3 separate regions of the Homo sapiens genome follow, and all the other regions are linked to region 1. The links come from fine-mapping of genetic effects on gene expression. A gene starts in region 1. Each other region holds a variant in brackets. All regions are shown on one strand. Distances are from middle to middle.

Region 1 (8,256 bases):
TGGTGGCTCACGCCTGTAATCCCAGCACTTTGGAAGGCCGAGGAGGGTGGATCATGAGGTCAGGAGATCCAGACCATCCTGGCTAACACGGTGAAACCCCGTCTCTACTAAAAATACAAAAAATTAGCTGGGCATGCTGGCAGGTGCCCATAGTCCCAGGTACTCGGGAGGCTGAGGCAGGAGAATGGTGTGAACCCGGGAGGCGGAGCTTGCGGTGAGCCAAGTTCGCGCCACTGCACTCCAGCCTCGGTGACAGAGCAAGACTCTGTCTCAAAAAAAAAAAAAGAAAAGAAAAAAAATTAAGTGGCATCAAGAATGACAGCACACACACACATGTGCACACACACACCTCACCCCCCTCCCCATAACCGAAGAAGGCTGTCTGAATTCCCCCCCATGACAGGCTCATGGTCCTTTTAGGACACCAGACTAAATCGATGACGCCGTTTTTCTCCTACAGAAGCTGCAAATTCATGTGGTCATTAATTTGTTCACTCAACAAACAGAACCCAGTTGTTGCATACCTAATAGGAGCCAGTGCCTGCACTAGGTCTCTGGTGAAACATCATAAATTCTCGGCCCCAGCCACAGGGAGCTTATGGTCTAGAAGAAACGCTATCACGGAGACCCGGGCAGTTCCTCCAAGTCAACACCAAGCAAAGCTGAATCAGAACCCACGCACACTCCCCCTGTGCCTGGGAGCTCTGGCGAGATGCTTACCCACCAGGCGTAGTGTCACCCAGTAGAGCAAGATCAGCTCTAAGCTGGGTCACAAGTCTTTTTTTTCCCCCACCAATAATTAAAAATATTGAAGATTTGGAATTACGTACTTCCAGTAACAAATAGGGGTTGAATTCTGGCATCCTTCCTGAGTGGGAGCTCTACTGGAAGTGTGTGTGGCATGTACCTGTCCCAAGGTGAAGAGGGTGGCCCCGGACAACACAGCTTTGGAAAATGGTGTGGGCACCAACACAACATAGACCTCCCACCAAATCCAAGCACGTCCAAGGCAATCACATTCCAACACAGCAAGAGAATCTGTAGTTTACAGTAAACAAATTCACAATTTCCAGTAGCAGTGGCAATACCAGGTACCAAAGCCGGAGAGAAAACAGACACAGTAATTCCTGACATTCGGTGATGAATTTCCCATTCAGGGTGACAAAAACTTACGCATCTAACTTCCTTGCGCTGAAATCCTTAAAATTTCTTAATGACTTTCAACATAATAGGCTTAAGAATCGTTTTTTGGTTTTTTTTTTTTCATTTTGTTTTTTATTGAGATGGAGTCTTGCTCTGTTGCCCAGGCTGGAGTGCAGTGGCGTGATCTCAGCTCACTGCAACCTCCACCTCCCGGGTTCAAGCGATTCTTCTGTCTCAGCCTCCCAAGTAGCTGGGACTACAGGCGTGATCCACCACGCCAAGCTAATTTTTGTATTTTTAGTAGAGACAGGGTTTTGCCACATTGGCCAGGGTGGTCTTGAACTCCTGAACTCAAGTGATCCACCCGCCTTGGCCTCCCAAAGTGCTGAGATTACAGGCGTGAGGCTGTAGTCCAGGCTTAAGAATCTTTACCTAACCAAATGTAGTCCAGGCTTAAGAATCTTTACCTAACCAAAAAAGTTTATGACAGCCTGTTCTACATATGTGACTACTTAGGTGTAAGTTTTCTAAAATTAAAAAAAAAAAAAAAAAAAGTGAGGCCGGGCGCAGGGGCTCACGCCTGTATGCCTGTAATCCCAGCACTTTGGGAAGCTAAGGCAGGCAGATCACGAGGTCAGGAGATCGAGACCATCTTGGCTAACACGGTGAAACCCCATCTCTACTAAAAATACAAAGAATTAGCTGGGCGTGGTGTTGTGCGCCTGTAGTCCCAGCCACTCAGGAGGCTGAGGCAGGAGAATCTCTTGAACCCGGGAGGTAGAGTTTGCAGTGAGCCACTGCACTCCAGTCTGGACAACAGAGCGAGACTCCATGACAGAAAAAAAAAAAAAAAAAAAAGCAAATAGCTCTTTTCTAGGAGGGTGGACATGGACATCCACTTAATGTTTTTCCTTCTGCACATTTGCTTTGTTCTTGTAAATTTTACATTGCTGCCTACATAGATATTGCTCACATGTGCAGGTGAAGTCAAATAAAAACAGACAGGCGCAGTGGGCCAAGCACTTCACGCACATCTAATGCACCAAGTCAGCGGGCGGGCATCTGTGTAGCCTGACAGCCCCACCACAATGCCTGGTAATGCACCCACCGAGAACACGAGCTCCCTGGAGCATAAATGTGCAAGGACTGTATACACCGATAACATTTCATAAATAACAGGCTTGCTACTGGCCTATTCGTAGACGATCTGAGGTTGAAATTTTTTCCCCTTGAATTACAAAAAAAAAATACCGTGAAAGCCTCCTTCAAGATTCACTAAAGCTGGGCCTGACTCAGGAGTGCACCTGTTTCCACGGCAGGGGCAGGAAACCTGAAAACAAGACTTTAATGGAAGTACTTAGTGAACCTGAGTTATATAAAGGTGCGTCTGTAAAGCAGGCCTCTAAGGGGGGCCTGGGGAGCCTACCTGTCATTTTCTTACTGGAGGGGAGAGTGGCCAGGAAATGCATTTAATGGCCCCAAACGGAGAGAGTGTATTGGTTATGGAAGAGAGAGAACACACTAATATCTGAGGCAAAGAACAAATTTGTTATCTCCTGAGTTCTGATTTTACCAAAATGCACACCTTTCAGCACGGTTAGAAAAAGGTATACTTCCCCTCTCACGCCCCAAGGGGGAGTGAGTCATTGTTGATGTTGCATTTTAAATTATTCAATGCGATATCTGTAACCAAACATGCCAAGACTAAAAAAGGGGAGAAGTTTACAGACACAAACTTTGGGCCCTGGGAATTACCCCAGCAAAAATTCCCCAGACGCAAGGCGTTTATAAAAGGGAGTAATTAGACAGACAACCCTGAACAAGAACCACATTGAAGAAATATAAACACTGGTGATGAGTTAGAGGCAATCACTAAATAGAAAAAGAAAGTGGCTCCAGAGGAAATGAGTAATTAAACAGGCTTTCTCCTGATCAACAGACCTTGAGGTCCGGGGCAGAGCAGAGGGTGCGGAGGGCAGTGGAGCTGGAAAGGAGGGAACCGGAATGGGCGGGAGGTGACCACGGGATGCTACCAAAGGCACCGACAGGCCTGGGCAGCCGTCCAGGCCCAGCTGGGTCTCTCTGCCCTGGTGACCTCGGGCCCGGGGGAATCTAATTTGATCTTGGGGTCCCGCTACTCCATCCAAGGAGCACTAGTTGGGGATGTAAACTGAGGCACAGGCTTCCTGTCCTCGCCCCTCCCCGCCAGGCCTCTGCTCCTTCAGCACAGCCCACACTCCTAGGGACCTCGCACTTCCCGGAGCAACACCCTCCCACTGTCCTGGGTGAGTGTGTTGGGGTCCCCCAGGACCCAGACTGGATGGGGTGGGGGTGGCCCAAGGGTCCAGACCAGACAGGGTCAGGGGTAGCCACTGGGGTCCAGGACGGCAGGCATCAGGCACTGGGGTGACTTGAGGCCCTGGCTGGTGGGGGTCGGGGGTGGTCCTGAGAACCAGGTCAGGCTGGGGTGACCCTGGAGTCCAAGCTGGTGGGGGTCCAGGGTGACCTGGAAGGGTTGAGGGTGATCCCCAGGCCCAGGCAGCAGGGACTGGGGTCAAGGTGACCTCAGTAACCCAGCTGGGTGGAGCTGGGGTGGGAGTGGCCCTGCGAGCCCAGGCTTGTGGGGTTAGCGGTCAGGGGTGACTCCGGGGGGGCCTAGGAAGTGGGGGTCGCGGTTAACCTTGCGTGTTTAGGCAGGGTAGGGACGTAGATGACCCCAGGGATCCAGGCCAGTGGGAGTTCAGAATGACCCCGGAGTCCAGGCCGATGGGAGCTGGGGAGCAGCAGGGATCTGGGTCAGGGGTCTAAGAGGCCCAGCCAGATGGGCTTGGGGTATGGGTGGCTCCAGGAGCCCAGGCCGGTGGGAGATGAGGTCAGGGGTGACCCCAGGAGCCGCAAGGTGTGGGTCAGGGCTGACCCCAGAGTCCAGGCCGGTGGGGGTCGGGGGCGACGGGGTATCCAGACCGGGGAAAGTGGAGGAGATCCTCAGGCTGGAGCCTCCAGGATCGGGGTCGGGGTGATCCTAGGGAGCCAGGAGGCGGGGGTCGGGGTTGACCCCGGAGTCCAGGCCGGTCGGGGGTTACCGGGGGTGGGCCGGGGGGTGGGGGTCGAGGCCGAGGAAGCTGGAGGGGGATCCCCAGGCCCGGGCCTCAGAGATCGAGGTCGTGGGCGAGCCCCGGGTGCGGGCGGCGGGGGTCGCGGGGCCACTCACTGCTTGGGCAGCTGCAGGGCGGGCGCGCCGCGTCTCTGGAAGGCCCCGTCCACGAAGACGCCGTTCTTGCCGAGGCAGCGCAGGTAGAAGTGCGGCTCCTGGAAGCTGAGCTGCAGGTGGCGCCGCGAGATGAAGCTGGACAGGCCCATGCTCAAGTCCACCGAGCCCTGCGACGAGTTGCGGCCGATGGTGACGCTGGGCTGGCGCATGAGGAACTCGAACTCGCGGCCCTCCAGCCGCGCCAGCGCCGGCCCCGGGCTCTGCCGTACCGAGGCGGCCGCCGCGGCCACCAGGGCCGGCGCCGCGCCCGCGACCGCGGAGTCCCCGGATACCCCGGAGGAGCCCCCGGAGGAGCCCGCGCCCGCGATCGCGCCCGGAGGCAGCGGCGGTGGCGGCGGCGGCGGCGGCCCGGGCGGAGGCTGGGGCTGCGCGGGGGCCGGCGGGGGTGCGGCCGCGGGGAAGGCGGCGGCGGCGGCTGCGGCGCACAGCACTGGGCTGCAGGGCGCCGAGCGCAGCGCGAGCAGGGCGCGGGCGCCGCTGTCCTCGCCGACTTCGGCCATGTTCGCGCGGCTCCGAGCGGCCTCCGGCGGCGGCGGCTGCAGCGGCGGCGCGGGGGGCGGGGAGGTCGGGGCGCTGGGCGGGCGCGGAAACCCGGGCCAGATCGCGCCGGCGCGGAGCGGAGCCTCCCAGCCCACCGTGCGCCTCGCCTCGCCCGCCCGCCGGTCCCGCCCAGCGTAGCCCACGTGGCGCGCGCCAGCGCGGGGCTGGGGGCGAGGCCTGTGCCGGGAGGGCCGGCGGGCCCCCGGGAGAGCTGGGCCCGGCGCACCTCGTCCCCTCCCCGCGGGGCTGCAGGCGGCGGGCGCCCTTTCCTCCATCCAGGGGGAAGAGGGGACCCCTGAAATGCCCAGCCACAAAGTTTTGAGCCTGGGTCATTGGAGAAAGGGACGGATGACCTCAGCAGTCTCCCCGCCCCAGACACTCCAGGCCCCCAACCCTAAAGTGTAAGATAGACAGAAGATAAAATATATGTGTATTATATACAATACATATGTTTATATTCTAACCTCGCTCTGTCGCCCAGGCTGCAGTGCGGTGGCAAAATCATAGCTCACTGCAGCTTCCACCTCCTGTGCCCAAGTCACCCTCCTGCCTCTGCCTCACAAGTGCCACCACGCCCAGCTAATTTTTTTACTTCTTATAGAGACAGGGTCTTGCTATGTTGGCCAGGCTGGTCTCAAACTCCTGGTCTCAAGTGATCTATCTATCTCGACCTCCCAAAGCACTGGGATTACCCGTGTGAGCCACAGTGCCAGGCCTGATCATTCTTAAGCCCTCAGATTAAAGGTCATCATACTCTACTGTAACTGAAGACCACTTGAGATCCATCCCTGAATCCCTGATCCATCCTTCCTTCCTTCTTTCCTTCCTTCCTTCCTTCCCTTCCTTCCCTTCATTCCTTCCCTTCCCTTCATTCCTTCCTTCCCTCCCTTCTTTCCTTCCTTCCTTCCTTCCCTTCCTCCCTCCCTTCCCTTCCTCTCCTTCTTTCCCTTCCCTTCCTTCCTTTCCTTCCTTCCTTCCCTCCCTCTCTTCCTTCCTCCCTCCCTTTCCTTCCTTCCTTTCCTTTCCTTCCTTCCTTTCCTTCCTTCCTTCCCTCCCTCCCTTCTTTCCTTCCTTCCTTCCCTTCCTCCCTCCCTTCCCTTCCTCTCCTTCCTTCCCTTCCCTTCCTTCCTTTCCTTCCCTTCCTTCCTTTCCTTTCCTTCCTTCCTTCCTTTCCTTCCTTCCCTCCCTCCCTTCCTCCCTCCATTTCCTTCCTTCCTTTCCTTCCTTCCTTCCTTCCTCCTTTCCTTCCTTCCTTCCTTTCTTTCTTCCCTTCCTTCCTTCCTTCTTTTTTTTTTTTTTTGAGACGGAGTTTCGCTCTTGTTGCCCAGGCTGTAGTGCAATGGCGCAATCTCGACTCAACGCAACCTCCACCCCCTGGATTCAAGCAATTCTCCTGCCTCAGCCTCCCAAGTAGCTGGGATTACAGTCATGTACCACCAGGCCCGGCTCATTTTGTATTTTTTTAGTAGAGATGGGGTTTCTCCGTGTTGGTCAGACTAGTCCTGAAAACCCGACCTCAGGTGATCTGCCCGCCTCAGCCTCCCAAAGTCCTGGGATTACAGGCGGGAGCCACCGTGCCCGGCCGCCTGCCTGCCTTCCTTCCTTCCTTCCTTCCTTCCTTCCTTCCTTCCTTCCTTCCTTCCTTCCTTTCTTTCCCTCCCTCCCTCCCTTCCTTCCTTCTCTCTCTTTCTTGTCTTTTTCTTTTGAGACAGGGTCTCACTCTGTCACCCAGGCTGGAGTGCAGTGGTACAATCATAGCTCACTGCAGCCTCAACCTTCAGGGCTCAGGTGATTTTCCCACCTCACCCTCCCAAGTAGCTGGGACTATGAGCCACCATGCCCGACTAATTTTTAATTTTTTTTTTTTTTAAGGCAGAGTCTTAATCTGTCACCCAGGCTGGAGTGTAATGGTGCAGTCTCGGCTCACTGCAACCGATTCTCCTGCCTCAGCCTCCCAAGTCGCTGGGATTACAGGCATCTGCCACCACACCCAGCTAATTTTTGTATTTTTAGTAGAGACGGGGTTTCAACCATGTTGGTGAAGCTGGTCTCAAACTCCTGACCTCAGGTGATCCACCTGCCTCGACCTCCTAAAGTGCTGGGGCTGCAGGCGGGAGCCGCCTCACCTGGCCTTTTTCAATTTTTTTATAGAGACAGGGTCTCATTATATTGCCCAAGTTGGTGTTCAACTTTGGGGCTCAAGCAGTCTGCCACCTCAGCCTCCCCAAATGCTGGGTTACAGGCGTGAGCCACCACGCCCAGCCTATCTCTCTTTCTTTCTGGAGCCCTTCACTCATTCAATATGCTAGATCCAGCTAAGACAGATCTGAGAGAATGCCCCAGAGAGAAATCTTAGCTGAAAACAGGGAGTGGCAAACGTGGGCATCATTGGGATCCCTTTCGGACTTCAGTAGCCTGGTCCTCCATTGCCAGTTCAGGTTCCCCTAAAAAGGCGGTGCAGTTTCCACATTTCCCTCATTTACGAATTATTAAGGGTGGGAAAGGAGACACAGTTCCCTCCCTGGTGGAGCTTATAGTTGAGGGGGAGATGCAGACATAAATCAAAGACACATCCTAGAAAAAGTAAAATCAAGTCACAGCTGTGATACATCCGGTGAGGGACTGGTGCATGGTGACGTGCAAGTGTAAACGAGAGACTGGGCCTGTCTAAGGCAGGAGCTTCCCTGACCTGCACACCCACGCTCCAGTCTGGGGCTGAAATAGGTATTAATCTCATCTCTCAGCCTTGAATATGTGCATGCAGAGATAAGTGTTTGGGAGGCAAGGAAAGCTTTTTTTTTTTTTTTTTTTTTTTTTTTTTGAGACAGAGTCTCGCTCTGTTGCCAAGCTAGAGTGCAGTGGTGCGATCTCGGCTCACTGCAACCTCTGCCTCCAGGGTTCAAGCAATCCTCCTGCCTCAGCCTCCCAAGTAACTGGTACTACAGGTGTGTGCCACCATGCCCAGGTAATTTTTGTATTTTTAGTAGAGATGGGGTTTCACCAGGTTGGCCAGGGTTGTCTCGATCTCTTGACCTCATGATCCACCTGCCTCGGACTCCCAAAGTGCTGGGGTTACAGGCGTCAGCCACCGTGACCGGCCAAGGAACGCATTTTTAGCAGGAGCAGTAACTTGAGTACCTGCTTGATTGAGGTGGGGGGGATGGTAAACAGAGTCAGGGGGCTCCTCCTTGAGGTCTAAGGGATGCCTGATTAGGGAAGTGGTGTGAGACTGTGAGGGTAGTGCCCCTGCCAGGGAACTCTGTGTGATACAGAAGGAAGTATGGGCCGTGGAGGGGTAGGCA
Region 2 (8,254 bases), 78 kb before region 1:
CGGCTCAGGGTCACAGGCCGCCCAGGCTGGGGGCTGAGGCTCTCCCGGTCCCCCTGGCCTGTGCTCTTGCTTCTGCGAAAGCGCCTGGCTGGGAGGCGCTTGCTGGGCTGGCTCAGGGCACACAGGGAGGGCTTTGTGGCCGGGACATGCAACCCTTTTGGGCCCTGTCCCTTCCTGGGCCTCTGGCTACCGGTTCCAAGACAAGTTCCGGCATGAGCCAGGCATGGTACCTGCTCAGATGACCAAAAACTCTTTCAAAATCTCATGGTTATGAGCCCAGAGCAGTGGATCCAGGACCCAGGCCTCCTCTCCTTGCCCTCCTCTCCCTGCCCTGCTCCGAGTCTGAGCCGACCCCTAGGACCACGTCCCTTCATCCCTCTTTGCAGTCCCCGCAGAAGCTAGACAGTGCAGAACCCCACACGGCAGAATGCAGCCCCGGGGTCCTGTGCTCGCCACCTCCCGGCTCCATCCACCACCCCCTTTCCACGCCCTTGGCAATGAAGCAGTGAAATCAGAGAACGCTACCGCTAACAGGAAGAATGCGCTGCGTCTCAGAAGCCAGGAAACCACGTGGGTCAGGGCCAGCCTGAGCAGACCAGGCCAAAAGGCGACCTCGATTTGTGACCAACACGTGGTGCAATCCCAGCACGCGGCGCTCCCTGCAGACATCAGCTTGTATTGAGGAGGCCAACCTGCAGTGGCCCAGAAGCAAACAGAGGTCTCCCATCAGGGTGGCCACAGGCAGCCCTGAGGACATATAGTCACCACGCGGGAGAGAGCAGCAGCAGGTAATCACAGAGGCCCCCCGTGACGGGCGCTCCCGGGAGGGCGCCGGCTCAGGCCACACAGGCACCGGTGTCGGGGAGCCACCTCCAACCCCCACCCCCCGTTCTCTCACGCCATGCACGCACACACCAGGCACCACGGAAAGAAAAGGCCCACAGACAACAGCAGGCGACACAAGTGTGGAACGGGGCGCAATCTCTCACCCTCCACGGACGTAACTGCACCCAGGACAGCCGGCTGTGTTCATCCTGCCCCCGTTTCTCTGAAACCTCACCCAGGGCAACAGGTACGGACTTCCACAAAGAGCTTATTTCCCATGGAAAGGTTAGTGCCATAGAAACGACTCAATTCGGGGGGCTTAGAAAAACAACGGGACACGGGAAGGAAACCGAACAAGGGGTTTTCTCTATCTAGGTGGAAGGAGGGGGCCCACAGAGGTTCTGCACTTGTCCTGGGGGACGGGGACTCTGATGGGGGCCACGGGCGACCCCACTCCACTGCACAGCACGTGTGTCCTCCCGCACTGCCTCGGAATCACTTTGAAAAGTGTTCTCCCTTCTTCTTCAGGGAGACACCTGTCCAGCCACCTCCCTCAAATGCCCTCCAGGCACCTGGGTCCCTCTGCAGCTCTCCCGCCAGGGCCTGGGCAGAGGCTGCTTTGCTGGTGAGAGGCTGTGATGCGGAGGACGGGCGATTTCCAAGAACCACTGCTCCTCAGGCACTTCCGGAGCTCTGCGTCGAATCTGTCGCTGTTTCTCGTTGTGGTCCCGGACAGGAGAGCCAGCGCCGGAGCGGCCAGCAAAACTGACAGCTGACCTTTACGAGGACGCACTTCGCATCTCCAAGACACACTGAAGGACTCCTCTCTCCTTCCTGAGCTGGGCTCAGCATTAGACAGCTCTGGCTCAACGCTGCTTGGTGACAAAGATCCAGGAACCACTGGCTGTCTTAATGGAAGTGCAGGAGGGGGCTTCCTCAGGGACCCCAGAACCACCCAACTGGCTGGAGCATCCCGTCCTCCGGTTCTCACCGTGTGGCAAACAAAACCAGTCGCGTTGGCGGGGGCTGGGCGTGGAGGCACAGGCCTGCTCACCACTGCTGCTGGGGTGGGGTCTCCTGCTCACGGACAGCCCAGGGAGGGGCCCTGGAGTTTCAGGCAGGAGAAATGGTTCCAATTGAAAACAGCAGATCAATGTGGGAGTGGTGAGGACTCTGCAACTGGGTGAAAAAGCAGCTGGAGCAGATGGCGTTTGGCACTGTTAGGTCCCCATGTGGCCGTCAGCACCGGGACATCGGAGCCACGGATAATTCGGGAAGGTCTGGTCTGCAGAGCAGCGGCCCCAATCGTCCCCAGCAGCGCGATGTCTGCGGCCGGCGGATCCAGGCTCACCTTTCATCCTAGGAACCTTCCACCGCGAACGCCAACCCAGGAAGCCGCTGCTCTTACTTGAAGTTATCAGACAGAGCGGCAGGTTTACTCTTCGAGGGGATTAAACCCAGCGGGAACCCTGGACCTACGGCCGGTCATCAGACGTCAACAGGTAAAATCCTCAAAAATACATGATCCCTTTTGTGTCTGTCTCAGGTGTACAATGAAGTCTGAATTCCATGTTTAAACAAACAAAGAAAAACTTGGGGTCTGAAGTGAAATCGGACACCCCCCGAGTTAATGCCAACACTCTCTATGTCACGTTCCGGGCGGAGAGGCTGTTAGGTGGTCCGTGGCTCGGCAGCTCCTGGCTTCCCAACAGGCATCTGTCCGGTGCCCGGGCCTCCCCGGCAGCCTTGGTGTGTGCCTTGCTGCGTTTCTGTCTGTCCTCCCGGACAAAGGCGGCTGGCCGTGCAGCGCGGAGCGGAGGGGCTGTCTTGACACATTCCTCAAGATGCTGAGCTCCAACCTCCTCCCCATGCCCGACAGGGAGGCCTGGGGAGAGGAGGTGGTGCCGAGGGAGAAGGAAAGGAAAGCAAAGAATTCCCAGAATCATACAATCAGTTGTCTGAACTTGTTTATGTGTTTTTGTCTTAAACCACGGGAAGGCAGGCGATCAAATGGAAAGGGCTGGGTGTGTCCAGGTGCCGCCGATGCCCACAGGCCGCCGCGGGCTGTTCTCCTCCGTCTGTGGGTGCGGCCGCCTGAGCTGCCGGGTCCAGCTTCGGGGTCGCCGCTGGGTGAGTCCCACTCCCCCGCGTTGCAGGTGACCTCACTCCCCGGTGCCTGGCCCCTGGGGGCCGGCAGCTGCGATCACTCCAGCCGGTGTGGTTACAGCACCACTGGGCTCCTCCACCCGGGACCTTTTGACCTCGGGCTCTCCAGTGGAAGAGGCGGAGGCAGAGGCGGTGGTGGCAGTGGCTGGGGTGGTGGTGGCCGTGGCCGCGACGGCTGCTGCTGGCTCCTTGGGCCCCACCTCGCACACCCGGGTGACCACCACCGGCGCGGATGAACTCGCTTGGGTCGCAAGGAGCTGCAAAGGGCTGGTGAGGGCTGGAGTGGAGGAAGAAGAGGGTTACTCTGGGGTCTGGTTAGGACCCAGCTGCTTTTTTCAAGTCCCCTATACAGGGGCTAAGCCACCAAGCCGGAACCGGAGGTCAGTGCACCCCTGCCAGGCAGGACGGCTACCCTTGCTCTGCTCCCTGCGGGCCCTGCCGTCCCCTCCCCACCTCATCTGCCCTGTCTCTGCTGGCTCCAGCCTGTTGGGTGGAGGCCCCTCTCATTGCTGTCTAGATCCTGCTGGACATCGACGGCTTGCCTCACTCCTTTACACAGATGCACTGCCCTGAGCCACCCCACTGACAATGCGCCCGGTGCCCTGGTACCCTGCACCCCCGCCCAGCACCCTTGCACCCCAGCACCCCAACTCTCCTCCTTCCTTTGACCTCTTGCCTCACCCCATGGAGTGTGAGCTCCAGAGAGTGGGCAGATCTGGGTTTTCCTTCCACCCTGTTTTCTTTCCCCCCACTTTTTTTTTAAAGGGACAGGGTCTCGCTCAGTCACCCAGGCTGGCAGGTAGCGGAGCAATCACAGCTGACTACAGCCTCACTCTCCCAAGCAGCTGGGACCATGAGCGTGCAACACCACACCTGGCTAAGTTTTTGAATCTTATGTAGAGATGGGGTCTTGCTATGTTGCCCGGGCTGGTCTCGAACTCCTGAGCTCAAGCGATCTGCCTGCCTTGGCCTCCCAAGGTGCTGGGATGATAGGTGGCCCCTTCCACCCTCTTTTTCTTTGCATTACCCCAGTGCCTGGAGTATAGCAGGTGCTCAATAAATTGAACTGAGTGGAGGATCGGGAGATACTGGGAGAACATTCTCATGCCGCACTGACTACTGGGAGCCACAGAGCTTGGGATGTGGCATGGAGAACAGGGCCAGGGCCTCACCGTAAGCGTTGCCGGCTAAACTGTTCGTGGGAACCGCATGCTTTCCGTTCTGGGTCACGGCCCGGACTGGAAGGTGGTGCTGCCCGAGGGTCACGGGTGTGGCGGGCTGCAGGATGGTGACCGTGTGTCCGGGGACCCCGGGGGCCATCTGGCTGGCCACCGTCTGGATGACTCCACCAGCCGCGGGGATTGTGGCAAACGCAATGGTGGGTTTCTCCTCCAGGCCTGCGGGACAGGAACCAAGTCAGCACCACACTCGGCCAACGAGACAATCGATTTCCTCGACGCCTGGGCAGCAGGTCGGACAAGTGGGGAAAGTGAGGTCGGCACTGGGAAAAAATAGGTTTGCTAGAGGAAAATCCCATGGGTGAAATAGGTTTGGGAAGAAAATTACTAGGGTTTTAGAACAATATTTTACTTACTTATTTATTTTTTGAGACAGAATTTTGTTGCTCTGTCGCCCAGGCTGGAGTGCAGGGGTGCCATCTCGGCTCACTGCAACCTCCGCCTCCCGGGTTCAAGCGATTCTCCTGCCTCAGCCTCCTGAGTAGCTGGGACTACAGGCGCCTGCCACCACACCCGGCTAATTTTTGTATTTTCAGTAGAGATGGGGTTTCACCATGTTGGCCAGGCTGGTCTTGAACTTCTGACCTCAAGTGATCTGCCTGCCTCAGCCTCCCAAAGTGCTGGGATTACAGGCGTGAGCCACCGCGCCCGGCCTAGAACAGTATTTTAAATACCTTAGCTTTAACCAACCCAAATTTAGTCTGAGAAAGAAAACGTATTACTTGGAATGAAATGATCCTGATTACAGCTGTAACTTGGCCTTCCCTCACCAAACTGCAGTTTCATTACGGCAGCATTGAAACAAACACCACCGCGGAGAGGAAGTCCAGGGTGGAGAGTGGCCTAGGAGGGCGCTGCCTAACTGCAGGCGTTCCGGAGAGGAGCTTCTGGGGTCAGCTGCA[T/C]GTTCAGTGTCTACCCCGTCAAGCCCTGGGATCGGATTTCTTTTAGCAATTCAGAACTACTTTTTCCCTAAATGACTTCTAAAGTCTTTAACTTACGAGGGAGTCGAAAAGAACAGTCTTCCCAGGCTCATTCTTTCTCCTGCAGAAAACACTAAATTCCAAATGCATGCAAGGCCGCAACACAACTCAATTTAACGTTACCTTAGGGCAAGGACACAGCTATGTGCATCCGAGGGCCCTGTTCAACAAGGAAGGACACATCTGCGGAGATTCATGGGTTTTTTTTTTTTTGAGACAGGGTTTTGCTCTGTCGCCCAGGCTGGAGTGCAGTGGCGCAGTCTAGCTCACTGCAACCTCTGCCTCCAGGCTTCAAGCGATTCTCCTCCCTCAGCCTCCTGAGTAGCTGGGACTACAGGAGCGCATCATCATGCCTGGCTAATTTTTGTATTTTCAGTAGAGACGGGGTTTCAGTATGTTGGCCAGGCTGACCTCGAACTCCGGACCTCAAGTAATCCACCCGCTTTGGCCTCCCAAAGCACTGGGATTATAAGCATGAGCCACCTGCCCAGCTCATGCTGATTTAAAGGGACAAGGCAGCGAGAGGCAGAAGCAGAGAATCATCCTCCTCAAGCCCCAGGCCCAGGCCAATGGCGCTGCCTTGGGGACTTGCCGGCCGGGACCACCACAAAGGGTCCTGCGAAGGCTGCCAGCCGCGGCTGCATTACCTCTGGCCTCGCTGCCCAGGTCCAGCACGGCTGCGCCCGCCGCATCATGGGAGCCCCCCGCCGCGCCCTGGCTGGTGAGGATGTATCCGTTGGCCGAGTTGGCAGATGTGGTGACCACCCTGACCATGGTGACGGTGGGGGCCTGCTGCACGACGTGGATGGCGTGGCCCGCGGGCTGCTGTGAGGTTACGATGGAGGCGGGCATGTAGGCCACGGGCTTGGCCACGAGGCTGGACGGTCGGGGAGGCACGGCCATGATCACTGGCTGGGCGCTGACGGGGGAGCCTGCACGGAGGGCGGAGAGCGGACGGTGACCCCTCCCGCACCCCCACGAGTCCCGCCCCGCCCCGCCCCGCAAGAGGGCCGCCCGCTCCTTACCGGGTGCGCTTTGGGAATACCGGTACTCTGGGACAGAAGCTAACTTGGACCCAAACTCAGGGTCGTGTGGAATGGGGGAGCCCTCCCGAGACAGGCACTCTGGGGTCTGCAGGCCGCCGGAGCGAGGGGACATCAGCCCGGGGTGTGTGGGCGAAGCTGGAGCGCTCCTGGAAGACAGGCAAGGGCCGCGGCAGTCAGCGCCCGCGCTGAGGGATGCGAGGACGTTTCCGAGACATCACGCATCTCAGCGCCGTCACCCGCCCACGCTCCCTGGAGCTCGTCTCTGTCCTCCGCATTCAGACGGTGAGAAACGCCCCCGTAACCTGAACCCAGCCTTTAAAACTCCATTTGAGTGGGGGCTGCATGGGGGAGGCTCCGTTCCATGAGAGGGGACGGTATCATGTGAGGTGCTGCAGTGAACGCAACAACCTACGGAGTTCACTTCCACCGAGGTCCAGCCAGGTGTCCATGAAAATGGCCCAGGCCTTCTGTGCCAAAAACATAAGCTTCTGTTTGGTGGGCGCAACCGTTCCACCATGAAAACTCTACCCGAGAGGGGTGTTTGAACGTCATTTGGAGCTCAGTTTAAATGCTGCAAATGACGTTCGAACACTTTTTTGAAGTCCTACCTCAACCATACGCCCAGTTCACCTGAGAATCACAATGCCAGACCCTGTGCTCGAAATGAATTTTCAGATATTTCAATCTTTCATCAAATCGTGTTGGAAACAGAATTTTGAAATGGGAAGCACGAGAGGTTAACGTGTCCTTCCACGGGGAAGGATTTCCGAGACTGCCGCTCAGGAGATCTCCTCCTCGACACCTGGGACGGGCTCATCTGATGGGCAACCTGGGAAGCGCTGCCCAGACCGCTCACAGGCGGTGCATGCTCCTCCAGACTGGGCTTGGCCAAGACTGAGCTGGGCAGGGGAGGCCCTGACGCAGCAGGTGGGCAGCAATGGCTGGGGGAGGGTCTGTCCACCCCGCCGGCAGCAGAGCTGCGTTCCCAGCATCTGCGAAAAGCAAAGGCGGTTGTGGGCTCCCCAGGTCATACCCCTCATCTGTCCCTTCGAAGATTGGGCTCTCCCCGGGTCCTCTCACACACTGCAACAGAAAGCTTAGTGCTACCAAAAGACCCACAACCGCAATCCATTTATTCTTGGCCTTAGGAACCGTTCCTATTGCTACACACATTTCCACTTCTAAGAACTAAAATCTTATTTTTAATACAACAGTCAGTGGCTTACTTAGTAACCTTACTATTTTAGGAGTTCTTGGTCCTGAGATATTCTCTCAAAACAAAAACAGAAAATGGTGCAGTCTTTAAGTGCCGAAACCAGCAGTCACCCCTCGGTACTTGAGGGGCGGGGGTTGTGGGTACCAAATCTGCAGATGCTTACCCAAGTTCCTCATAGAAATGGTGTCGCATTTGCATACAACCTGTGCACATCCTCCTGTAAGCTTTAAATCATCGCCAGGTTACTTATAATCCCTAACAAATGTACCTGCTATGTAAACAGCTGTTGTAGTGTGTATTGTTTCATTTGTATTACTTTTTTTTTTTTTTTTTTTTTTTTTTTTTTGAGACGGAGTTTTGCTCTTGTCGCCCAGGCTGCAGTGCAGTGGTACATACAATCTCGGCTCACTGCAACTTCTGCCTCCGAGATTCAAGCGATTCTCCTACCTCAGCCTCCCCAGTAGCTGGAATTACAGGCACCTGCCACCATGCCCGACTAATTTTGAATTTTTTTAGTAGAGGCAGGGGTTTCACCATGTTGGCTAGGCTGGTCTCAAACCCCTGACCTCAGGTGATCCACTTGCCTCGGCCTCCCAGAGTGCTGGGATTACAGGCGTGAGCCACCGCGCCGGCCTTCTTTTTTTTGGAATATTTTTGACCTGTGATCAGTTGCATGCCCGTACACTGAGCCTGAGCCCACAGATCCGGAGGGCTGACTGCGCCACGTATCTCTAAACTCCAGGGCAGCTCAGCTTTCCTAACAGCTGGAGGACGGGCGCTCAG
Region 3 (8,000 bases), 66 kb before region 1:
GCCCTGCAGGCCACCCAGAACCATCCAGAACCACCCAGAACCATCCAGAACCATCCAGAAGGTCCATTCTCCTCCTCCCGCCTTGCTGCCCTTTCCTCTGCCAGGAACATCCTTCCCTAACTGTCCAGGCACAAGACTCCTAGATCTCCAAAACTTAGGTTAAGTAGGAGCCCCCTTGGGTGCAGGCGGGGCTCAAGAAACATTTTTTGGATGGAGCAGAGGAATGAATGAAAAAAATCCTGTGGCTGAGAAAAACCTGACAGCTGACATTAATGATCAGTTCAGGTCTGGGGCATTTTCAGGAAGGACTCAGTGTCACCCACATGGAACGTTAAGGACTCTGATCTGGAATTCCCATTCTCTCTTACAACGGACTCCCCAAATATGGCAGAGATAGGTAAGTTCCACACGTGTCGAAACTTAAATGAACACCCACAAATGGCTCGATCGAGGTAGGAAACAGTCAAAAGGAAACCTTTTCTGAATTTAGTTCTGAATCCAAAATACAAAACCCAAGTTTACAAGTAAGATGAGAAGGGGAGAGAAAGGTTTTGACTGGTAACAGCACACAGCCCCCAAAATCGGCTTTGTCAAAGGCCTCTGGGAACCAAACACCTCCCTGCTGAGGCAGGATGGCCTCATGGCCGGAGGGGCTGCAGACAATGGGGCCAGCACACGCCTGTGCACCCGGTCCCAGACCCAAAGCCACTGGACGTCCCCCTTGGACTCAGCAGGAAGAACTGAAATGTCAGTCCTTGCTGGGGACCACTGAGCCGAGGTGTCACTCACATACACTCTGATCTCCGGCCACAGGCTGGGGAATGGCCACTCAGCTCGGAAAATCTCATCCGAGGCCCATGAGGTGGCAGGCGGGCTCCTGGATCCTTCCTGAGGACCAATGAGGGGCACCCCCCAGCACTCCACAACAAACAGTGATGGCCCAGCACGTGTGGCAGGGACCTGCTCCTGTTCCCAGCAGTTATTTTGCAGAAGATCATAGAAAATTCATGTCTGCCGGGTGCGGTGGCTCATGCCTGTAAGCCCAGCAATTTGGGAGGCCCAGGCAGGAGGATCGCTTGAGCCCACATGGTCGAAACTAGCCTGGGCAACATAGTGACACCCCCATCTCTACAAAAATATTAACATTAGACAGGTGTGGTGGTGTGCACCTGTAGTCTCAGCTACTCAGGAGGCTGAGGCAGGAGGACTGCTTGAGCCTAGGAGTTTGAGGCTACAGTGAGCTATAATTGTGCCACTGCACTCTGGCGGAGCAAGACCCTGTCTCTAAAAATAAATAAATAAATACATAAATAAACAAAGTTTTAACATTTTAAAAATTAGCTGGGCGTGGTAATGCACACCTGCAGTTCCAGCTGTTCAGGAGGCTGAGGCAGGAAGATGGCTTGAGCCTGGGAGGTCGAGGCTGCAGTGAGCTATGATCACACCACTGCACTCTAGCCTGGGCAACAGAGTGAGACCTTATCTCAAAAAACAAACAAAAAACCTCATGGAGTAAAACCCACAGGAAAAGTTGTCATTCCCCAGAGAATGATTTCAAGTGGAAATAAGAAAGGTTGGCGAAGCCTGGCTCCCACAGGCGAGAGAGTAGGGTGGTTTCTCCGCCACTTTCCCCAGCACTGGACCTGGCCTGGGCTGCCGGATCCTGGTGTCACTCCAGCCGGGACAGGTACGACAGCGCAGCTTCTGAGGTTTTCCAGCCACCTGGGCTGAGGGACCACATGTGTTTGTTCACATGGCTCCTCCAGCCCTCGGAGCAGCCCGTCTCTCAATAAGCCCCATTCAACTGTCCTCCGCAGGCGGGCCTCGGCCACGGGGCTGTGCCTGGTACCAGGCTCCTGATACCAAGGCCCCCGATACCAGGCCTGCAGCTGACGGAGGCGGGAAGCAGAGGCTGCTCGAGCCTCACAGCCGCTAAGAGCTGTAAAGTGCCCTGGGGGAAGACAGGTCTGAGGGCGCCCAGCCAGGGTGGGATGGGACACCCAGCTCCAAAGCCAGAGGCCTTGGAGCCATCCGGAAAACTAATCAAGACATCCCATGTCTGATGCTGGGAGTCCACGGAAACATTCCCTTAGCAATCTAAAGAAAATGCTGGGCCGGGCACGGTGGCTCACGCTTGTAATCCCAGTGCTTTGGGATTGGTAATCCCAATGCTTTTGGGATTACCCGAGGAGGGTGGATCATGAGGTCAGGAGAGCGAGACCATCCTGGCTAACACAGTGAAACCCCGTCTCTACTAAAAAAAAAATACAAAAAATTAGCCGGGCATGGTGGCAGGTGCCTGTAGTACCAGCTACTCTGGAGGCTGAGGCAGGAGAATGGCATGAACCTGGGAGGTGGAGTTTGCAGTGAGTCGAGATTGCGCCACTGCACTCCAGCCTGGGCGACAGAGCAAGACTCCATCTCAAAAAAAAAAAAAAAAAAAAGTGCTGAAGGCCAGGCACGGTGGCTCACGCCTGTAATCCCAGCACTTTGAGGGGGCCGAGGTGGGCAGATCACCTAAGGTCAGGAGTTCGAGACCAGCCTGCCCGATTTAGAGAAATCCCGTCTCTACTGAAAATGCAAAATCAGCCAGACGTGGTGGTGCATGCCTGTAATCCCAGCTACTCGGGAGGCTGAGGAAGGAGAATTGCTTGAACCCGGGAGGCAGAGGTTGCAGTGAGCCGAGATTATGCCATTGTACTCCAGCCTGGACAACAAGAGTGAAACTCTGTCTCAAAAAAAAAAAGATGGGAGACCGAGGCGGGTGGATGACGAGGTTAGGAGATCGAGACCATCCTGGCTAACACGGTGAAATCCTGTCTCTACTAAAAAATACAGAAAACAAAATTAGCTGGGTGTGGTGGCGGGCACTTGTAGTCCCAGCTACTTGGGAGGCTGAGGCAGGAGAATGGCGTGAACCTGGGAGGCGGAGCTTGCAGTGAGCAGAGATCGTGCCACTGCACTCCAGCCTGGGCGACAGAGCGAGATTCTGTCTCAAAAAAAAAAAAAAAGTGCTGAAAACGACGGCATACACGTGCACACATTTCCTCCTGCGGGAATGAGAAAGAGCAGGAAGCTGAGGGGACCCCACTGCTCCCTGACAGGGACCACCAGCTCAATTCCAGGAAACAGGGAATCACTCCTTCTGGGGTAAGTACCCCAGGCCTCGGTCAGGCCCCCCCCAGTCCCTAGCTGCCCAGGTGTGGGACGCAGAGGCTGGACAGTGACAGCCCACAGACGTCGCGGGAATCAAACGCCTGTGCCCCCCGATTGGAGGCTGAGAGAGGGAAGAAGCACAGTAAGCAGCTCACCCCTAGGCCCTGATTTTGCTTCCTTTATATGGAGGACAATTCCCAAGTCACATTTCCGCCTCAGGCGAGAGAGCTGGAGGATTCTGAGTACGGGTCTCCCGGAGCTGTGCTCACAGGGACAACCCCATGCTGACCCACCCCGGGCAGCCTCCACCGCATCCAGGGGCCGGGCCTAGAAGGTGCCACTGGGACCACCCAGGACATGCCAGTGCAGGGAGACTGCAGAGGGACGGACGGGCTGTGGGACACACAGGTCGCTGGGTCACGTTATGATGAGAAGTCACGCTGAGAAAGGCAAATCCAACAACAGACCTAAAGCCACCTCTGGAGCCGCCAGCTGGGCTCCGTCCCCAGAGCCTAAGACAAGCCTTCCCCAGGGCACAGGGCTGCGGTCCTTCCAGTCCACCCTCAATGCCCTTGGCTCTGCTCTGAGGCTGAGAAGGCCACCCTGAGAGGCCTAGGGTCGGGACAGTTATCGCTTCCGGCAGGCCCAGGGAGGACAGTGCTCTGTCAGAAGGGACCTGATCCCTCCTGAAGCCCTAGAGACACAGAGGGACCCGCCTGGAGGGGCTGGAGGAAGGAGCTGCGACGGAGCCTTGTGGGCAGTGGAGGGGCGAGAAGGCTGCGGGGGTCTGCGATGACCTTTGCGTCCCAAGGCGGCACCTGAAGCCTCCTGGGGGAACCTCCCTGCAGAGGAGGACGCTTGGGGTCCCTGCCCCAGCCCCTGCTCCAATACCAGCCGCTCTAAGAGGGTTTTTAGGACCTCACTGTTAAACACAACAGCCGGCCAAGGCACATCTGTGGTTTGAGGAAGCTTCTACCAGGTGGAACATGGTGCAAAACAGAAGAGAAGAGGGACCCAGGGAAGCCTACGGGAGCTTGGGAGGAGATGAAACATGGTTCCCGTCCCTAGGGAGGTAACGATGCCGTCTCTGTAGGACAGTAAGAACAGCATGCAAAGCACACCTGCAGAGCAAGAACACGCTCTTCAAATTAAAAAATAAGAATTCAAAAGAAGAGAAATACAAATCCAAGAAAGGGTGGAAGGAGAGACTGGAGAAAATCCCTCAGAAAGTAGAGAGAGAAAGGAAAGGAGAGGCATGAGAGACTCAGCTCAGAGGCCCGCCAGGCACAGCCAGTCCCAGAAGCGTGGACAGGAACCTGGGGGTCCAGGCGAGGTGGCTCACACCTGTAATCCCAGCGCTTTGGGAGGCTGAGGTGGGCAGATAACTTGAGCACAGGAGTTCAAGACCAGCCTGGGCAACATGGGGAGACCCCACCTCTACAAAAAATACAAAAATTAGCCGGGCATGGTGGTGCACACCTGTAGTCCCTACTACTCGGGAGGCTGAGGCAGGAGGCTCGCTTGAGCCCAGAAGTACCAGCCTGGGCAACAAAGTGAGACCTTGTCTCTTAAATCAGTGAATAAATGAAAAGTCTGTCTCCTGTGCCCTTTCCCAGGAAGCGACTGGGGGATGGACTCTGGTAAAACAAAGGAACAAATCAGGAAAGAGGAAGACGTGGGAATCAGGAAACAGCCCTCTCTCCACCACCACCTCCT[G/A]AGGGGATTCCCAGGATGGTGGAGAAGATGATCCCATGGTCAGAGGGGCCCCAGAGGAAGGCCTTCACAGTAAAGGGAGAAGAGGCCATTATTAACCCCAAGAGCGGGGGGAGTGTGGCGGAAATAAGCCAAAAGTACAAGGAAGGAAATGGCTAAGCGCTACAATCACTACACAGTTCTAATACAGAAAACGCTCATGCAAGGTAAACCAGACATGATGATGTAACTTTACTGGGATGGGGAGGGGGGAAGCTAAATCCTTAATTTCCATATAGGAACCTCATGTGTAATATCTAAAACGGAAAAACCAAGAGACAGTCACGTACGAATACGACTCAGAGACACAGAAGTGAGAGAGAAGGGCTCAGCTCTGGGGAGCGTTGTGTGGGGGAATTTTCACTTTCTGAAATGTTTGCATTTTGTAAGATGCATATAGATAGATAGATAGTCTCTTCGTAATCTGAAAAAGGAAAAATAAACAAATAGGGAAAGAAAATTTTCAGAGGCGAATTTCTTAGAATGATCTTAAAGAATGTGTTCCTTTAAGATAAATCCGACATTGTAAAATGCTGGGAAGCTATTTTTAAAAATTAACTAGTGGATTGCTCCTGTAGTCACGGCTGAGGTGGGAGGATCGCTTGAGTCCCGGAGGTCGAGGCTGCAGCGAGCCGTGACCGGACCACTGCACTCCGGCCTGGGTGTCAGAACAAGACCCTGCTTCAAAACAAAACAAAAACAACAAAGGCAACAACAACCACAACAAAAACAGGCCCAGGCTTGTAATCTTGGCACTTTGGGAGGTCAAGGTGGGAAGACTGCTTGAGGCCAGGAGTTCAGGACCAGCCTGGGCAAGACACCATCTCAACGAAAATAAAAAATGAGCTGGGTGTGTGTGGTGGTGGGTGCCTGTAGTCCTAGCTACTCAGGAGGCTGCAGTGGGAGGATCGCTTGAGCCCGGGAGGTTGAGGTTGCAGTGAGCTGTGACTGTGCCACTGCACTCCAGCCTGGGCAATAGAGTGAGACCCTGTCCCAAAAAACAAACAAACAAAAACAAAATCAACCCCCCAAACCCAAATTGGAACCAGCATTAAAAATAATAATTTAGAAAATAAAATTAACTTGTTTCTGAAGTGCACTTTGCCCTGGTGAGAATAACCAGCATGGTGGCTTCAACAGGAGCTGCTCTCATGTTAGGCATAGACCTCACAGAGCTGAGTGGGTGCTTGAGCGGAGAGGCGGCCCCGCAGCTAGGCAGGTTCCGGGGTCAGCTCCGTGTCTGCAGGCGCCTCCTGCTTCCCCTGAGGCTCATGGAACCCGGAAAGGGCTGTCCTCGTGCGTAACATGCCCGCACAGAAGCCATGCAACAGGCCTACTCCACACAAGCCGCTTGTCACCCGAGGCTGACCTGAGAAGTCGGGCGCTAGGACCCTCCGAGATTACAGGAAACGCGGGCGTGGGGATGTCCTTTCAACAGATTCGGACAAACACAAGGACTTCCCTACCAAGCTTCATTCCGAACTCCCAACACTTTAGCGCCAAAGTTGCCCCTCGAAGGGATCTAGGCAGGAGGGAAAAATAAAAGGAAGACAGAAAGTCCCAACCTTCCCATGTGGAGGAAACAATAGTTACTTCCCCAGAGTTCTCAGCTGGGAAAAGACATAAGAGGGTGTGGTGGGGTGGGGAGGGGCAGCAAGGCCTACAGGGACAGGGACAGGCAGACAAGGGAAGAGGGACCCTCACTGGATTTGCAAATGCTGGCACAGCCAGCCCAGATCAGCCAGGCAGGATTCCCGCTAGGGGTGATTCACACATTCGCACCACAATCCTCCTGCAGCCCTGCTGAAAACACACGGAAGGCTGCAGCCACAAACTTGTGTTTTTTAATTATTAATTTTTTGAGACAGGGTCTTGCTCTGTTGCCCAGGTTGGAGTGCAGTGGTGACATCATAGCTCGCCACAGCCTCCAACTGCTGGGCTCAAGCGATCCTCCTGCCTCAGCCTCCCGAGTAGCTGGGTCTAAAGACATGAGCCACTGCACCTGGCTAATTAGCAAAAAAATTTTTTTTTTTAGAGATGGGGGTCTCACTATGCTGCCCAGGCTTGTCTGGAACTCCTGGCCTCAAGCAATCCTCCTGCCTCAGCTTCCCAAAGTGCGTCACCACACCCAGCCAACCAGAAACTTTGAAAGAGATGAATCACCCTGCAGGAAGCTACCAAAGTTGTCAGAAAAAGGAGAGTATTTCTAACGTAGATCCAATAACCTCCAAACTCAAAAGACCTCTAACTTTACAAAACAACATAAACCAAGTTAGGACTGAATGTTATCTAGCAATAAGACAGAACTGTTTAAAAATCATGATTAAAAGGGAAAGATTTTGAAGTCAGTTGCTGCATTTTTACTGTATATTTACATACTGCTGACCTTCGCCGAATTGTACGAGTTACTTTCATTTTTGATCTCCACGTTGGAGAAATCAGGAAGAGCCTTAAGAGAAACAGCTCTTGAAGTCTTGCCCTCATGAGCAAAAACAGTCACTCTGTGCAATGTCCTTTCACTGAATTTCAGCAGTTTTCTTAAAACTCTACCTCTAAGGAACACTTTTTAGACTGGTGTCTGTCTGATGGAACCTAGAAAATGATTAACTACTTGAATTCTTTCATTAAATACTTTAATTCCTTCCTAAAAACACTTTTTTTTTTGAGATGGAGTCTCGCTCTGCCGCCCAGTCTGGAGTGGTGCAATCTTGGTTCACTGCAACCTCTGCCTCCTAGGTTCAAGCAATTCTCCTGCCTCAGCCTCCCAAGTAGCTTGGATTACACACCTGGCTCATTTTTGTATTTTCAGTAGAGATGGGGTTTCACAATGTTGACCAGGCTGGTCTCGAACTCCTGACCTCAGGTGATCCGCCTGCCTCAGCCTCCCAAAGTGCTGGGATTACAGGCCTGAGCCACCGGGCGCCTGGCCTGTAAAAATCCTTCTTTGCAAAAAGGAAAGAAAAGGTCAAACTTCTGCTAAAGATAGCAGAATTTATTTCAAAGAGAGTTCATTCATTTTCTGGGTGGAGTACTTCAGGGCAGAAAAAAATAAATCAGAAACACACACACACACACAAAACCACACACCCACA

The links. PIP is the estimated chance that this variant, and not a neighbour inherited with it, causes the effect.
Region 2: its variant is fine-mapped to the expression of FOXK1 in testis (GTEx, PIP 0.90).
Region 3: its variant is fine-mapped to the expression of FOXK1 in pancreas (GTEx, PIP 0.93).

What each region holds. Positions count from the first base shown.
Region 1 is chr7:4,678,967-4,687,222 of GRCh38, reverse strand. FOXK1 (forkhead box K1) reads right to left here and starts at 4,928. Exons shown (of 9, transcript NM_001037165.2): 1 at 4,355-4,928. The coding sequence starts at 4,914. RefSeq lists enhancers at 3,544-4,071, 4,931-5,225, 5,427-5,927 and silencers at 4,628-4,697, 4,848-5,217.
Region 2 is chr7:4,757,198-4,765,451 of GRCh38, reverse strand. FOXK1 (forkhead box K1) reads right to left here. Exons shown (of 9, transcript NM_001037165.2): 6 at 6,235-6,401; 7 at 5,857-6,141; 8 at 4,164-4,388; 9 at 1-3,268. The coding sequence ends at 2,988. Among named protein-coding and RNA genes, the nearest start is that of AP5Z1, 14 kb to the left of the region's middle. RefSeq lists an enhancer at 3,832-5,031. The variant T/C (reference allele first, on the strand shown) is at 5,132.
Region 3 is chr7:4,745,457-4,753,456 of GRCh38, reverse strand. All of the region lies in intron 2 of FOXK1 (forkhead box K1), which reads right to left. Among named protein-coding and RNA genes, the nearest start is that of AP5Z1, 26 kb to the left of the region's middle. RefSeq lists an enhancer at 3,114-3,613. The variant G/A (reference allele first, on the strand shown) is at 4,873.